Linked DNA regions of Homo sapiens: region 1 is linked to region 2. Evidence: fine-mapped expression QTL. A gene starts in region 2. The other region holds a variant in brackets. All regions are shown on one strand. Distances are from middle to middle.

Region 1 (8,341 bases), 66 kb before region 2:
AGACCACTGATTGGGTTTCAGAGAAGACTATAGCGTAAGTCTCTGTTTATTGAGACCACTGATTGGGTTTCAGAGAAGACTATAGCGTAAGTCTCTGTTTATTGAGACCACTGATTGGGTTTCAGAGAAGACTATAGCGTAAGTCTCTGTTTATTGAGACCACTGATTGGGTTTCAGAGAAGACTATAGCGTAAGTCTCCGTTTATTGAGACCACTGATTGGGTTTCAGAGAAGACTATAGCGTAAGTCTCTGTTTATTGAGACCACTGATTGGGTTTCAGAGAAGACTATGTATTTCTTTTTGTGTTGGGGGAGGGGGCTGCATATTTGAAGACATCCACTTTTTCCTTCTATGATTTGTATGCAAACTTAGTTTCCTGAGAACTTGGATAGGGAAGTTAAAGTTTCCCAATTGATGTAGCCATTTCGGAAAACTGTGTGTATTCAGCCTTCATGGATTCTGGCAGATTATGTAACCCAATAATTCCACCTGGAGGTGCACATTCGACAGAGGGACCTGTCTCAGTTTGCTGAAAGACAGGCACTAAAGCATTCCCAGCAGGTGTTCATAATCTCTGAGAAGTGGAAATACCACTGACAGTAAGTTGGATAAGAAACCTGTGGTTACATGCTCCTGTTCCATGAGAAAGAACACTCTCGGTCGTATGCAAAAACCTGGACAAATCTCAGACATTGTTGATGGCAATGAGCCAGACTCAAGAGTACATCCTATGGCTTTATTCCTGTGAAGTTCAAAGATGGACAAGGCTCTGGTGTTGGAGGTTCGGGCAGTGTATTCACACGTTCTCGCGCTGCTATAAAGACATACCTGAGACTGGGAATTTATAAATAAAAGAGGTGTAATTGGCTTATGGTTCTGAAGGATGTACAGGCTTCTGCTTCTGGGGAGGCCTCAGGAAACTTACAATGGTGGCAGAAGGCAAAGGGAAAGCAGGCACGTCTTACATGGGGGAGCAGGAAGAAGAGAGAAGAGGGAGGCGCTACACAGTTCCAAGCAACCAGGTCGCGTGAGGACTCTGTCACAGGAACAGCTCTAGGGGATGGTGGTAAATCACTAGAAACCACCCCCATGATTCCGTCACCCCCCAGGCCCCTCCTCCAACACTGGGATTACAGTTCGACGTGAGGGTTGGGTGGGGACACAGCCGAACCATATCAGACAGCGGTTACTTTTGTTAAGATAGTGAAGGAGAGGGGTACAGGAGAATGATGAACCTGCTCTGTTTCTTGACCTGGATACTGGTAACTCAAGTGCCTTAAATTCATGACAGTGCGTTGGCTGGCACTTAACCATTGTGTGTACTTTCCAGTATGTATGTTTTAATTCAAGCATTTTTATTTTTGCAATTAAATAAGGGTTTCCTGTAAATACTTACCCTCTACTTACCTTCATTGGTACCCACACATTCAAATACTTCTCTATACTAGTCTTTGTTGGCCATTTTTCTGAGCTTGCATCAACCGAACACAAAAAGACCCAAACCCTTTTTTAAAAAATAACAACTTTATTGTGATATCCACATACCACAAAACATATACTTTTAAAGTATGTACTTCATATATTTTAAGAAATACTTTTAAAGTATAACTATGCTTTAAAATGTACAGTTTAGTGATCCTCATATATATTCATGAGGAAGTACAACCATCATGACTGATTTTAGAATGTTCTCATTACCTCAGAAAGAAACCCCATACCCATTAGCATTCACTCCTCACTCCCTTATCTCTCTGGTCCCTGGGAATTACTAACATACTTTCAGTCCTATTGGATTTTCCTATCCCAGGCGTCTCATGTAAGTTGAATCACATGTGGTCTTTTGCGAATGGCTTACTTTCACTTAGCAAAATGTTTTCAAGGTTTATCCAAATTGTACCATGTATCAGTACTTCATTCCTTTTCTTGGCTAAATAGTATTCCACTGTGTAGATATTCCCCATTTTGTTCTTCTAGTCCTCTAGTGATGAACACTTGGGTTGTTACCACCTTTTAGCTATTCTGAATAGTGCTCTATGAACACTCATGTGTGAACACCTGCTTTCAATCCTTTTGGACTTGTAACCAGGAGTAGACTTGCTAGGTCATATAGTAAATCCATATTTAACTGTTAGAGAAACCACCAAGTTATTTTCCTCAGTGACTGCACAATTCTGTATTCCTACCAGCAATGTATGAGAGTTCTAATTTCTCCACATCTTTGCTTATTTTTTACTTATTTACTTATATTTTATTATTACTTATATTTACTTATTTTTTATTATACCCATCCTAGTAGATGTGAAGGAGCATCTCATTGTGGTTTTGATTTGCTTTTCCTGAATGACTAATGATGAGCATCTTTTCCTGTGCTTTTTGATCATTTCTATATCTTCTTTGGAGAAATATATATTCAAGTCCTTCACACATTTTTAAAAACTTTTATTTTACATTCAGGGGTACAGGTTTTTAAACATTTAAAAATTTTAACATTTAAACAACATTTTAAAAAACTTTTATTTTACATTCAGGGGTACAGGTTTATTATAAAAGTAAATGGCACGTCATGGAAGTTTGGTGTACAAATTATTTCGTCACCCGTTAATAAGCATAGTACCTGATAGGTAGATTTTTCTTCCCCACCTTCTTCCCACCCTCTGCTCTCAAGTAGGCCCTGGTGTCTGTTGTCCTTTTCTTCATGTCTATATGTACTCAGTGTTTAGCGTCCACTTATAAGTGAGAACATGTGATATTTGGATTTATGTTCCTGTGTTAGTTTGCTAAGGATAATGGCCTCCAGCTCCATCCATGTTGCTACAAAGGACATCATCTTACTCTTTTTTATGGCTGCATAGTATTCCATGGTGTATATGTATCACATTTTCTTTATCTAGCCCACTGTTGATGGGTATTTAGGTGAATAGTGCTGTGATGAGCATACAAGTGCAGGTGTCTTTATAGTACAATGATTTATATTCCTTTGGGTATATACCCAATAATGGGATTGCTGGGTTTGATGGTAGTTGTGTTTGAAGTTCTTTCAGAAATTGCCAAACTGCTTTCCATAATGGCTGAACTAATTTACATTCCTACAAAAATGTGTAAGTGTACACTTTTCTCTGCAACCTCACCAGCATATATTATTTCTTGACTTTTTTTAATAATAGCCATTCTGACCTGTGTGAGATGGTATCTCATTGCAGTTTTGATATGCATTTTTCTAATGATTAATGAGCATTTCTTCATATGGTTGTTGGCAACACCTTTGCACATTTTTAATTGGATTTTTTGCCTTTTTGTCAAGTTGTAAGTGTTCTTTATGTTTTCTGATTACAAGTTATATACGAGAC[G/A]TACTTTGTGAATATTTTTTGCCATTCTGTGAGTTGTCGTTTCACTTTCTTAATGGTGTCCTTTGAAGCACAAAAGCTTCTAATCTGATGAGATGCACTTTATTTTTTTCTTTTGTCTCATGTGCTTTTGGTGCAATTGCTACGAAACCATTGCCTAACCCAAATTCATTAAGATTAACTTCTTTGTTTTCTTTTCTTTTTTTTTCCCCCAAATTTGAGATGAGTCTCACTCTGTCACCCAGGCTGGAGTGCAGTGGTACAATCTCAGTTCACTAAAACCTCCGCCTCCTGGGTTCAAGTGATTCTTCTGCCTCAGCCTCCTGAGTAGCTGGGACTACAGGTGCCCACCACCATGCCCAGCTAATTTTTGTATTTTTAGTAGAGATGGGGTTTCACCATGCTGGTCAGGATGGCCTTGATCTCTTGACCTCATGTTCCGCCCTCCTTGGCCTCCCAAAGTGCTGGAATTACAGGCTTGAGCCACCACGCCCGGCCGCACCAACCTATATCTTAAATCTAGAAAGAACATTAAAAGCATGCATGGCCTCAGAGCCCTGCTGCAGAGGCGTGAGGAGCCATGGACTCGGTGACTTGCCAATTCCACATTTATTTCTGGACAACTCCCATAATGGCTTTCATCTTTATTCTGTTGTCTCTGAGCTTATTTTTTGTGGCAACCAGAGGTAAGGAGAGTGGTTGAGGTAATAGAAAACCACACAGTTAAACCACACAGTTGTGAGGCAACACAAATCAACTCAAGCCACCAAAAAAGGAGTCCTAGGGGACTCGGGTTCAAGGCTTCTTCCATGTTCTTTGAGGAGATATTACTTGAGCAGAGACCTGAATGATAAAGATGCATCTAACCACAGGCCAGAAAAAGAGCATTCCACTTGGCGGGCACACATGCAAAATAGCCCAAGTTGAGTAAAGGAGCCACTAGACACGAGTTTGGGGAGGATCAAACATGAATAATATCTTAGAGAATGAAACCTGTGTTGTCAAGCAACTGAAAAAGAACCAGGGTGGCTGGGACATGGGGACTTGGGAATGGGTAGGACCCTTGTGGATCATGTTGTATATTTTGGGATTTTCTCCAAGTGCAGTGAGATAAGTTACTGGGGGAGGCTAAGCCAAGCATGCATATAACTGACACTGTGCGTCTCAGGTTGGCTGTCTCTGTACCCCAGAGACCGTAAGCCAAGCATGCATATAACTGAGACGGTGCATCTCAGGTTGGCTGTCTCTGTACCCCAGAGACCATAAGCCAAGCATGCATATAACTGAGACGGTGCATCTCAGGTTGGCTGTCTCTGTACCCCAGAGACCATAAGCCAAGCATGCATATAACTGAGACAGTGCATATCAGGTTGGCTGTCTCTGTACCCCGGAGGCCATAAGTCAAGCATGCATATAACAGATGGTGCGTCTCAGGTTGGCTGTCTCTGTACCCCAGAGACCGTAAGCCAAGTGTGCATGTAACTGAGACTGTGTCTCAGGTTGGCTGTCTCTGTACCCTAGAGACTGTAAGCCAAGCATGCATATAACTGAGACTGTGTGTCTCAGGTTGGCTGTCTCTGTACCCCAGAGACCGTAAGCCAAGCATACGTATAACTGAGATGGTGCATCTCAGGTTGGCTGTCTCTGTACCCCAGAGACCGTAAGCCAAGCATGCATATAACTGAGACTGTGCATCTCAGGTTGGCTGTCTCTGTACCCCAGAGACTGGGTTGACAGGGATCAAGAACAGGGTTGGGAGGCAGTGAGCCTCTCAAGGACAGCAAATGTGGGCTTCCCGACTCTGACAGGATTGGCAAGAGGAATGAGTCCAGGAACTAGAAACCAACAGAATGTGACATTTTCCCTTTCCTGCAGGCTGGTAAATTGTCACCTCTCACCCATTGATTGTGAAGTCCTTGCTGGCCTTCTAACCAACAACAAGAAGCTGACGTATCTGAATGTATCCTGCAACCAGTTAGACACAGGCGTGCCCCTTTTGTGTGAAGCCCTGTGCAGCCCAGACACGGTCCTGGTATACCTGATGTGAGTGGATGTTGGGGGTGCCTACTGTGGAGGGCCATGGCGGCAGTTCAAACCTGGGCCTATTGATGACAGTCTGCTCATTGATGGAGGCCACATAGCGGAGGTTTAAAAGCTCACGCTTAAGAATCAGAAAAGACTTGAGTTCTAGTTCAGGATTTATCACGTATATACTGTCTTCTTAAGCAAAATATTTAACTTAGAAGCAGAGGAAAATCCTGTCTTAGAGGTCTTATGGCTATCAAGTGAGACTGTCTATACAGAACACGTACTGTGTTTCAAAGCTGTTAGGTTGGGTTAATGCACCTGCAACACACATGGTACTTCCCGTGTTGATAACGGTTATTTCGAGCATGTAGAATAGACTTGGTGGGTACTCAGGACAGTAGCGGGGAAAAATGTCTATGGGCCTCTTGACCCCAGTTAATACTATAATACATGTGATGTTCTTGCAGTAATAGGATGAGAAGAGGCTATTCAAGCCAGTTTTAGGGTACGTAAAACACAGAAGGAAGACAGATGAGTAAGTGTTAAAGGCCAATTGATTTACCTATTAATGGAATTCTAATACCTTTAGGTGATACTTATACAAAAGGGGAGAGGACAGGAGAATATATATGCATTTGTGTCTTTTTTTTTTTTTTTGAGTTTTGAGTTTTGCTCTTGTTGCCCAGGCTAGAGTGCAGTGGCATGATCTTGGCTTATCGCAACCTCTGCCTCCTGGGTTCAAGCAATTCCCCTGCCTCAGTCTCCCAAGTAGCTGAGATTACAGGCATGCGCCACCATGCCTGGCTAATTTTGTATTTTTAGTAGAGATGGGGTTTCTCCACGTTGGTCAGGCTGGTCTCGAGTGTGTCTATTTTTTAAATACACAAATATCACTGGAAGAAATAGTATTATAATATAGGCTGCCTGTGAGAAATAGAACTGAGAAGCTGGGAGATAGGGGAGGATGGAGATTTTTCCCTCTTTATACTTTTGGGCATTTTGAAATATGAACAACATGAAAGTAAGAGTATTCTGAAAATGTCAAGAAAATGAGAGGATTTATACCTCGAGCTAAAATAGAGGGACAGGGACAGGACTTAACCTCCCACCTAAAACAACCAAAAATAACCAACTAAATAAAACAACTGTTTAAGACTTCAGACATCAGGCAATGAAGGACAGTGGTGCCTGAGTGATAAGGGACAAACAGGTGAGTCCTAGAATTGTCCCAGGTAACTATCTGGAGAGAGATTTCAGGATGCAGTTCAGGAAGGGGAACCCAGATGGAAGTTGGTAGACTCTGTGAGTTGGTGAAACCCCGTCTCTACTAAAAATACAAAATACAAAAATTAGCTGGGTTTGGTGGTGCATACCTGTAGTCCCAGCTACTCTCGAGGGAAGCTGAGGCTGGAGAATCGCTTGAACCTGGGAGGCAGAGGTTGCAGTGAGCCGAGATCGCACCACCACACTTCAGCCTGGGTGAAAGAGCAAGACTGTCTCAAAAAAAAACAAAAAATAAACCAAAAAAAAAACAAAAAACAACAAAGTCCACAAATGCCTGGATATGCCAGAAAATTGAGATCCGTGAGAGAAGCAAGCTGGGTGAGGCCTCCGTGGAAATGCAGATCTTGTGTCTGTCAACAGGAAGCAGTTGCCCGTTCTGTCCTAGCCTGTTGGATTTCCATGTGGGAATGCGGCTCATTATTGCCAGATATCCCAGTTTTCAACAGAGGTTGAAATCTAGATTTTACATACAATTTTACTGATGGTTATATATTGCCAACTGATTTTGTTAAACATAAAAATGCCAGGAAATCTAAATATCCGTAGGCCATATGTGGTTCGTTCATCACTAGCTTGCACCGTCTGCTTTTTTGTTTTTCTCTACTCCACACTTTTTTTTCAAAGTCAACATGGATCCTTAAAAAAAAAAAATTCATAAACTGGCTGGGATTGGAGGCTCACACCTATATTCCCAACACTTTGGGACGTCAAGGCAGGTGAATTGTTTGAGCCCAGGAGTTCAAGACCAGCCTGGGCACCATGATGAAACCCTTTCTTGACAAAAAAATACAAAAATTAGCTTGGTGTGGTGGCACGCACCTGTAGTCTCAGCTACTCAGAAGACTGAGGTGCTGAGGTGGGAGGATCCCTTGAGCCAGGGAGGTAGAGGCTGCAGTGAGCTGTGATCATGCCACTGCACTCCAGCCTAGGTGACAGAGCCATACCCTGTCTCCAAAAAAAAAAAAGTTTTGAACCTACTGTGATTTTAAAGAATAATGAAATTGAAAAAGTTGGGGATTCTACACATGAGGTAATCAATACACTTTACCAGTCCCTGAGGGAGCGGTCTCAGAAGGTCCATGTCTTGTCCAAGGACATCATCAGATGAAGAATTAGAACCAAAATTAAAGCCCTGTTAGAGTATTAGCTATGCCATATTACACGATACTTTTTCCTTCTGCATTACCCTCTTATTTTCTAATTCTTCTATCATGCAACTAAGAAGAAATGAGAGGGCCGGACGCGGTGGCTCACGCCTTGTAATCCCAGCACTTTGGGAGGCCGAGGTGGGCAGATCACCTGAGGTCCGGAGTTCGAGACTAGCCTGGCTAACATGGTGAAACCCCGTCTCTACTAAAAATGCAAAAATTAGCGAGATGTGGTTGTGGGTGCCTGTAATCTCAGCTACTTGGGAGGCTAAGGCAAGAGAATCACTTGAACCTGGGAGGTGGAGGTTGCAGTGAGCCAAGATCGCGCCGTTGCATTCCAGCCCGGGCGACGACAGCAAAACTCCATCTCAAAAGAATAAATGAGAGGAGGTGTTTTCAGATAATCCAGAACTTCATCTCAGCTGGGGAGTTTGTAAGATTATAGAAATATTACCCTGAATGTGAAATTAAGCAAATCTCCCTGAGACACCACGTCCCTCTTCACTCTCCTTCTCGTGTTTTTGTCCCCATAGGTT
Region 2 (8,341 bases):
GAGTTCTAAATCTCTATTTTCAATCTCTGATATCCTTTCTTCATGACTAAAACACCAAAAGCATGGCAACAAAAGCCAAAATTGACAAATGGGATCTAATTGAACTAAAGAGCTTCTGCACAGCAGAAGAAACTGTCACCAGAGTGTACAGGCAACCTGCAGAATGGGAGAAAATTTTTGTAATCTACTCATCTGACAAAGGGCTAATATCCAGAATCTACAAACAACTTAAATTTACAAGAAAAAAAAATCTCATCAAAAAGTGGGCGAAGTATATGAACAGACACTTCTCAAAAGAAGACATTTATGCAGCCAACAAACATGAAAAAAAGCTCATCGTCACTGGTTATTAGAGAAATGCAAATCAAAACCACAATGAGATACCATCTCACGCCAGTTAGGATGGCGATCATTGAAAAGTCAGGAAACAGATGCTGGAGAGGATGTGGAGAAATAGGAACACTTTTACACTGTTGGTGGGAGTGTAAATTAGTTCAACCATTGTGGAAGACAGTGTGGCGATTCCTCAAGGATCTAGAACTAGAAATACCATTTGACCCAGCAATCCCATTACTGGGTATATACCCAAAGGATTATAAATCATTCTACTATAAAGACTCTTGCACACATATGGTTATTGCAGCACTGTTCACAATAGCAAAGACTTGGAACCAACCGAAATGCCCATCAATGATAGATTGGATGAAGAAAATGTGGCACATATACACCATGGAATACTATGCAGCCGTAAAAAAGGATGAGTTCATGTCCTTCGCAGGGACATAGATGAAGCTGGAAACCATCATTCTCAGCAAACTAACACAGGAACGGAAAACCAAACACCGCATGTTCTCATTCATAAGTGGGAGCTGGACAATGAGAACACATGGACACAGGGAGGGGAACATCACCCACTGGGCCTGTCAGTGGGTGGGGGGCTAGGGGAGGGATAGTATTAGAAGAAATACCTAATGTACATGATGGGTTGATCGGTGCAGCAAACCACAATGGCATGTGTCTACCTATGTAACAAACCTGCACGTTGTGCACATGTACCCTAAAACTTGAAGTATAATAAAAAAATGAAAGTAGAAAGAGGAAAATAATAAAGATAAAATCAGAAATCAATGCAATACAAAGCATGCAATAGAGAAATCAATAAAGCCTAAAGTTGGTTCTTTGAAAAAAAAGAAAAGAAAAGAAATTAAGACAGTAAAAAAAAGAATTCTAAATCTCATTCCCTAGTTTTCTGCTTTACATCTGCCTATTCCAAACAAGAGTATCTGAGGGCTTTAAAAATGAGAGAGGGACAGGGAAAAAGGGTGGAGTGGTGTTCTAGTCTCCATCTCATCCTCCTTTCCACCAGAAGATACACAAAGCCCGAACTTGTATGACTCCGCATGCCCCGTGTCCAGGGTTCTGATATGGAAGACTCAGTATTGCCCACTCTCCTTCCTTAGAACTCACTCATTTGAGGGTAGGAGAAGCTGTACAAGGTCAAGCACAGAGCCTTTGGAGACACACTGCCTGGGCTCATGTCCCAGCTCTCCTGGTCACCAGCTCTGTGACTTTGGGAAATTTACTTAAGCTGTCTGTGCCTCAGTTTCCTTCTCTGTAAGATACAAGTAATAGGACCTCCTTCTTATAAATATAGTGAAGAGTCAGTACAAATGTATAGACAGCATTAAGATAAATGCCTGGTTTATAGCCAGGCATGGTGGCTCACGCCTGTAATCCCAGAATTTTGGGAGGCTGAGGCAGGCAAATCACCTGAGGTCAGAAGTTTGAGACCAGCCTGGCCAACATGGCAAAACCCCGTCTCTACTACAAATACAAAAATTAGCCGGGCATGGTGGCAGGTGCCTGTAGTCCCAGCTACTCGGGAGGCTGAGGCAGGAGAATCCCTTGAACCCAGGAGGCGGAGAGTGCAGTAAGCCAAGATCACACCATTGTACTCCAGCTTGGGTGACAAGAAGGAAACTCCATCTCAAAAAAAAAAAAAAAAAAAAAGAGTCAATGTCTGGTTTATAACAGGCACCAGGAAACATGATTATTTTCAACAGCTCTCATAGGCAGTCAGTTCTTTTATAAAGTGATGTGTGCATTCTGAAAACTCACCACAGCAGATTACATGGTGCACTAAGACCAGACGGCTTACAGGAGATAGAATCAGTGATTATATATATATATATATATATATAAAATTTTAACCAGAAGCTTAAACAGCATGGTTTTATACTTGCTGATTAATTACAAAACACTTTATTACCACAATAAACACTGCACGATCCTACAACACCACAATCAGCCCTGTAACACCTCAGCAGGTCTTGCAATGCCACAGAAGATGTGGCATGAAACTTTACCCTGAGTAAAACATGAACTTTGCTTGTGAATATGGGAAGTGTCGCAGCTTGTGAGTTTTTGTGAAGTGAAAGAACAATGATCTGAAATCAGACAGAAAGTGTAGAATGGGCAAGGCTCGTACTGAGGAAGCGGGTAGATGTTTGAGGTACATGCCTGTGTGCATTGTGTACAATCCTACATGGCTCTGCTCGGCTGAGTGCAGGGTCGGTGGGTTGCGGGGGCAGGGCGGGGGTTGTTGTGGTTTCTTAGTGTTTCTCTTGGGCAAAACCATGCATAAGCTAACATGAAATCTGTGCTGCACTCAAATTGTTCCCAGTACGACAATCACACTGGGACAAATTTGCATGTTTAAAAGAAGCCTGGGCTGGGCGCGGTGGCTCACGCCTGTAATCCCAGTGCTTTGGGAGGTCGAGGCGAGCAGATCACGAGGTCAGGAGATTGAGACCATCCTGGCTAACACAGTGAAACCCCGTCTCTACTAAAAATACAAAAAAATTAGCCGGGTGTGGTGGCGGGCGCCTGTAGTCCCAGCTACTTGGGAGGCTGAGGCAGGAGAATCGCTTCAACCTGGGAGGCAGAGGTTACAGTGACCTCAGATCGCACCACTGCACTCCAGCCTGGGCGACAGAGTGGAGACTCAGGCTCAAAAAAAAAAAAAAAAGAAAGAAAGAAAGAAAGAAAAAGGCTTATAACATAACTGAATGTGCCTCTTCCGATTCCCTTTCTTGCCTTTGCTACTCCTTCCCAGGCTAGAGCACTAAATCTTTATAGCCTTTATGCCTTTAAACATCATACTGTCATAGATTATCAAGGAGGATTTGTAGGGGGAGATCGGCAGTGTGGAATGACCCCACAAAAACCCAGCGGCTACCTCCTTGCCTCAGGAGTACCAAGCAGCCCTCCCGCCTTCCTTCTTGAGGACTCTCACCTTTCATCTCGGCTCTAACTTTCTCACACAGTGAGGTCAGATTCATTGTCTGGAAGATGCCGAGGACCACTTTCCATGCCTGACCTTTTGGGAAGTGTTCATCCAAAAGAAAGGACAGATTCAAAGGGTCGGCAGCTCTCAAGTTTGCCCAGGGGATACGCGGGAAGTGCCCCTGGGGGGCCGACCAGAAGTCCATCAGCTGCTGGGGTTCCAAGCAAAGCTTGAATTCCTCCAGCTGATACTGATCCAGGGCCATCAGGTAAGGCAGAAGCCCTTGGTTGGTACCACCGTTGGGGCAGGTGATTACAGAAAAGTTCATCTTGCCCAACACATGCAGTTTCTCACTTCAGCAAAGGACTCCTATATCCACAGGACACTTGTGACCTGCAGAAAAGGAGAGAGTTGAAATCATAAGCCATAAATATCACCTCCTCTCACTGTCTTGCCTACACATTTGAGTATTTTCGCTTCACAGTACTTCCTGCTACTTGTGTTAGTACACTTTTTTGTTGTTGTTTTGTTTTTTGAGATGGAGTCTCGCTCTGTCCCCCAAGCTGAAGTGCAATGGTGCGATCTCGGCTCACTGCAAGCTCCGCCTCCCGGGTTCACGCCATTCTCCTGCCTCAGCCTCTTGAGTAGCTGGGACTACAGGTGCCCGCCACCACGCCCAGCTAGTTTTTTTTGTATTTTTAGTACAGATGGGGTTTCACCGTGTTAGCCAGGATGGTCTCGATCTCCTGACCTTGTGATCCGCCCGCCTCGGCCTCCCAAAGTGTTGGGATTACAGGCGTGAGCCACCGGGCCCGGCCTCAACTGGGTATTTTCTCTAGCAACCTTACCTAGACTCGAGATCACTGGCTTTCATCCCATCCCAGAAGGAACAATGCCATCAGCACCTGATTTATCTGCCTTACTAACAGTGACAGCTGTCCTAGAAAAGTTACAGGTGCATGATGGTACTTACCAACTCACATTCAGAGGGTTCACCTGAAATGTGAATAAGAAGAACATTGAAGTTAATTAGTCACAGTAAAGATCAAAGACATTTGAGAGATGGGAACGGGGGAAACTAATCAGGGAGAAGGGGTAACAAAGAGAGAAAATAGAAGTTTCCGCCCATCACGATTTTGGCCACCAGGCAGCTAATGGTGATTGAGACAGATCTGCCACTATTCCCCCATAGAACCTGGTCCGGCATGTATGCTGGGTCATGTCAAAATACCAGGTAGTATTGAAGGCAACAGATAGACAGCAGAACAAAAGACTTTTTTTTTTGTGATGGAGTTTCGCTCTCGTTGCCCAGGCTGGAGTGCAATGGCTGGATCTCGGCTCACTGGAGTCTTTGCCTCCCAGGTTCAAGTGATTCTCTTGCCTCAGCGTCCGAGTAGCTGGGACTACAGGTGCATACTGGCCTTGGCCTCCCAAAATGCTGGGATTACAGGCATGAGCCACCATGCCTGGCCCAAAACACTATGCTTGAAGCTACTGGTGTGTGACCCCCGAATGTCTCCCAAAGAGAAATCTCCAGAAGAGATGTATGTTAGGACCTACCCTGGCAGCCCAAATTCATTGGACTACTCCAGAAATTGTTGGAGAAAAGATGGGGAAAGACACACAGAGGAAAACTTGAAACATCATGAAGAAAAGCCCTTTCAGGTATAAGCAGGGAGGATAAAGACTAGGGGAAAAGCTTATTTGAGAATCAAATGACATTAAGCTATCATTGAACACCCAGTAGAAGCTGAGCAAGGGGGCTGGGCGCGGTGGCTCACACCTGTAATCCTAGTTTTAGGAGGCCAAGGTGGGCAGATCACATGAGGTCAGGAGCTTGAGACCAGCCTGGCCAACATGGTGAAACCCCGTCTCTACCAAAAATACAAAAATTAGGTGGGCATGGTGGTGGGTGCCTGTAATCCCAGCTACTCAGGAGGCTGAGGCAGGAGAATAGCTTGAACCTGGGAGGCAGAGGTTACAGTGAGCCGAGATAGCACCACTGCACTCTAGCCTGAGCGACAAGAGCAAGACTGTCTCGAAACAATAAAAAAAAAATTACTCCATGCTGCACTTTTGTTGTATGTCTCTTGTTTAAATTTTTAAACCGAGAAGAACTGAGGTATCACATCAGCCACCAACAAACTCCTCCAAGATTATAGGGTTAGGTTCCCGTGAGCCTCTCGTCACATTTTCATCCACTAGTCAATACATAACCTTGTTTTATATGTGTCTCTGTTTAAGGAAACCTAATTTAATACATATCGTTGATTCATTAACATTGAGCCCACCGCCAGCAACACTATAGCTCATGCCTGAAAGAAGCTCAGCTAACGCATGCATTTTCTTCAGAACTCACATCCCAGCCTTCTTGTGTGTCGAGCACCAGACAGAACTTCCACACTACACAAGGGGACGTTTAGACAGCAAAGTCACCGACGAAAAGCCCAGAAATGCAAAAACAGGGCACTAAGTAGACCCACCAGCACTGCCTTATCTGACCTCAGCTCGAATTTTTCCTGGCTCTGTGCATGTCTGGATGACTTTGAAAGCTCTGCAAATATTGATTTGGGGGTTGCCAGCAGATCTTAGCGTGTAGATGAATTCACACACATGGAATCCACAAATAAAGAGGATGAACTATAATTAGGATGAAGCATGTTGGGTATGAGACCCACATGGTGCCATGAAGTTATACAGCAAGTAGGCCAAGTACATAGGACTCGAAAGGAAATTCCTCCAAACTTGATGCATGCATCGGATTGAGCCAAGGAGGGTGGGAAGAGGATTAGGGGGTAGAGCGGTCAGTGAAAACAGCAAGTGCAAAAGCCCTGGAGGGAAAAAAAATACAAGAACAGAGAAATTCAGCTAGAAAATCTCACACAACTGCGGAATCCCCTTGGTTGAGGAGATGGAAAGCTCCTAATCGAAGAAGGAAGTGTGTGCGATCAACTTTTGCTCCTAAGAAAACACCAGCAGGATACAGTGGAGTAAAAGGTCCCAGAGAAAGGTGAAACCTTAGAGCAGAGAGAGGAGACGTCTCTTACCAACCAGACTTTGAATCTCACATGAGTTTCCAGAGGCTGATTCGGGAAACCCCATAGAAGTAGTCACCGCCACCCCCTCCTCACCTGTGAGCAGCCCTCGGGTCCGTCTGCCTCCTCTTAGCTGTGTCTCGGGGCCTCCTGTTTATAGCTCTCTTCCCGCTCCCTTTCCCCAGCACAACTCGGGGTCAGTTGAGAAGCTGACAAGACTCAGCTGAGACGTACGATATCTGGTTTTTCTCCTCCAGATCTAGATAATCACAGGATTCTTCAGGCTGGGAGGCCAAACTGGGTTTAAAGACCATACTATCCTGAAGTAAATGGAGCCATCCACGCCAGCAAAGAGCCACAGATGGGAGTAATGCCTGTGATTACCCCTCCTACCATCTGGGCGACCTCAGGGGACAATGAAAGAGGAGAGGGAGACAGAGGTCGTGAGACACTAAAATCACGGTTGCCGCCACTTACAGGACTGTGTCTTCTTCCAACTGCAGGAGAAATGCTCCTTCCACCATTCCATCATGAATACAAAGGATTTTCCACCGAAGTCAGGAACAAGATGAGGATAGTCATAACTCCGCTGCTATTCAACATTCTGCTGGAGATGTCAACCAATTCTATCAACAATGTTAGCTAGTTTTAAACTCGGGTTACAGGCTTTAAACTAGCAATTGGAAAGCAATTAGAGAGAGGTATAATAATTGGAAAGCAACAGGTAAAACTACATTTGCAAACTTGATTATGTACCCGGACAATGCAAAAGACTGCATGGGAGAACTATCAACAACAAGAGAAATTGGTATTACAGCAGGTAATAAAATAAGTATTCAAAAATCAATAGACTTCAAATATGGAAACTCAAAACACTGGAAAAGAATACCCCTATTTACTATAGCAAAAAAAAAAAAAATGGAAATAAAATGCTTACTTAAAAACTTCAGAAATATCCAAAACTTATGTAAGAAAAACTATAAAATACATTTCTGCAAGATCCAAAAGTGGACTTAAGCCTTAAAGAAATAAATACCACGTTTTTGCATGGAAAGCTCAACCTCATAAATATATCACTTCTCTCTAATACAAATACATCAAGGTTTTACCTGGAGGTGCGGAAGTGGATTATAAAATTCAACTGAACAAATCGAATTTGTAGGAATGGCCTGGAAAATCCTGAAAAGGAGGAATGAGGAGGGACTAAACCTAGCAGATATTAAAATATACCATGAGGCCTTTATGATTAAAATATAGTATTGGCACATGTGCAAACAGACTGGGCAAAGGAACAGACTAGAAAATCCAGAAATAGGGCTGGGCGCGGTGGCTTACGCCGGTAATCCCAGCACTTTGGGAGGCTGAGGAGGGCAGATCACAAGGTCAGGAGATCGAGACCATCCTGGCTAATACAGTGAAACCCCGTCTCTACTAAAAATACAAAAAATTAGCTGGGCATGGTGGCGGGCACCCATAGTCCCAGCTACTTGGGAGGCTGAGGCAGGAGAATGGTGTGAACCTGGGAGGCGGAGCTTGCAGTGAGTCGAGATGGCGCCACTGCACTCCAGCCTGGGTGACAGAGGGAGACTCTGTCTCAAAAAAAAATTAAAAAAAAAAGAAAAGGAAAAAAGAAAATCCAGAAATAAAATTATTAACATATATAAATTTGATAAATATTGCATCACTCATAAGTGAGGGAAATTGACTTTTAATAAGCATGGTGATGCTAGATCTGTTTCCTATACAACAGAATAATTTTCAAGCACGTCAGAGATTTAAATGCATAAATAAAACTTTAGAAGCACCAGAAGAAAACAATTGAATTCCTCTCAAACCTGATGGTGGGGAAAGCTTTCTTAGCTAAGATTTAAAATTCAAAAGCAATTAGAGAAAAAATAAACAAATTTTATTACAAATGTTTTTTAAGCATTCATAACAAAAGATGTGTGAAGCAAGGTAAAAAGACAAACTATAAAATGGTAAATATATTTGCAACTTATATCAGAAAGAGTTTATATGC

The links. PIP is the estimated chance that this variant, and not a neighbour inherited with it, causes the effect. A credible set is the group of variants that fine-mapping cannot tell apart.
Region 1: its variant is the best candidate, but not a certain one, in a credible set for the expression of NLRP13 in testis (GTEx, PIP 0.64).

Annotation. Positions count from the first base shown.
Region 1 is chr19:55,862,489-55,870,829 of GRCh38, forward strand. NLRP4 (NLR family pyrin domain containing 4) reads left to right here. Exons shown (of 10, transcript NM_134444.5): 6 at 5,221-5,388; 7 at 8,339-8,341. Among named protein-coding and RNA genes, the nearest start is that of NLRP4, 30 kb to the left of the region's middle. The variant G/A (reference allele first, on the strand shown) is at 3,349.
Region 2 is chr19:55,928,698-55,937,038 of GRCh38, forward strand. NLRP13 (NLR family pyrin domain containing 13) reads right to left here and starts at 3,639. Exons shown (of 11, transcript NM_176810.2): 1 at 3,296-3,639. The coding sequence starts at 3,614.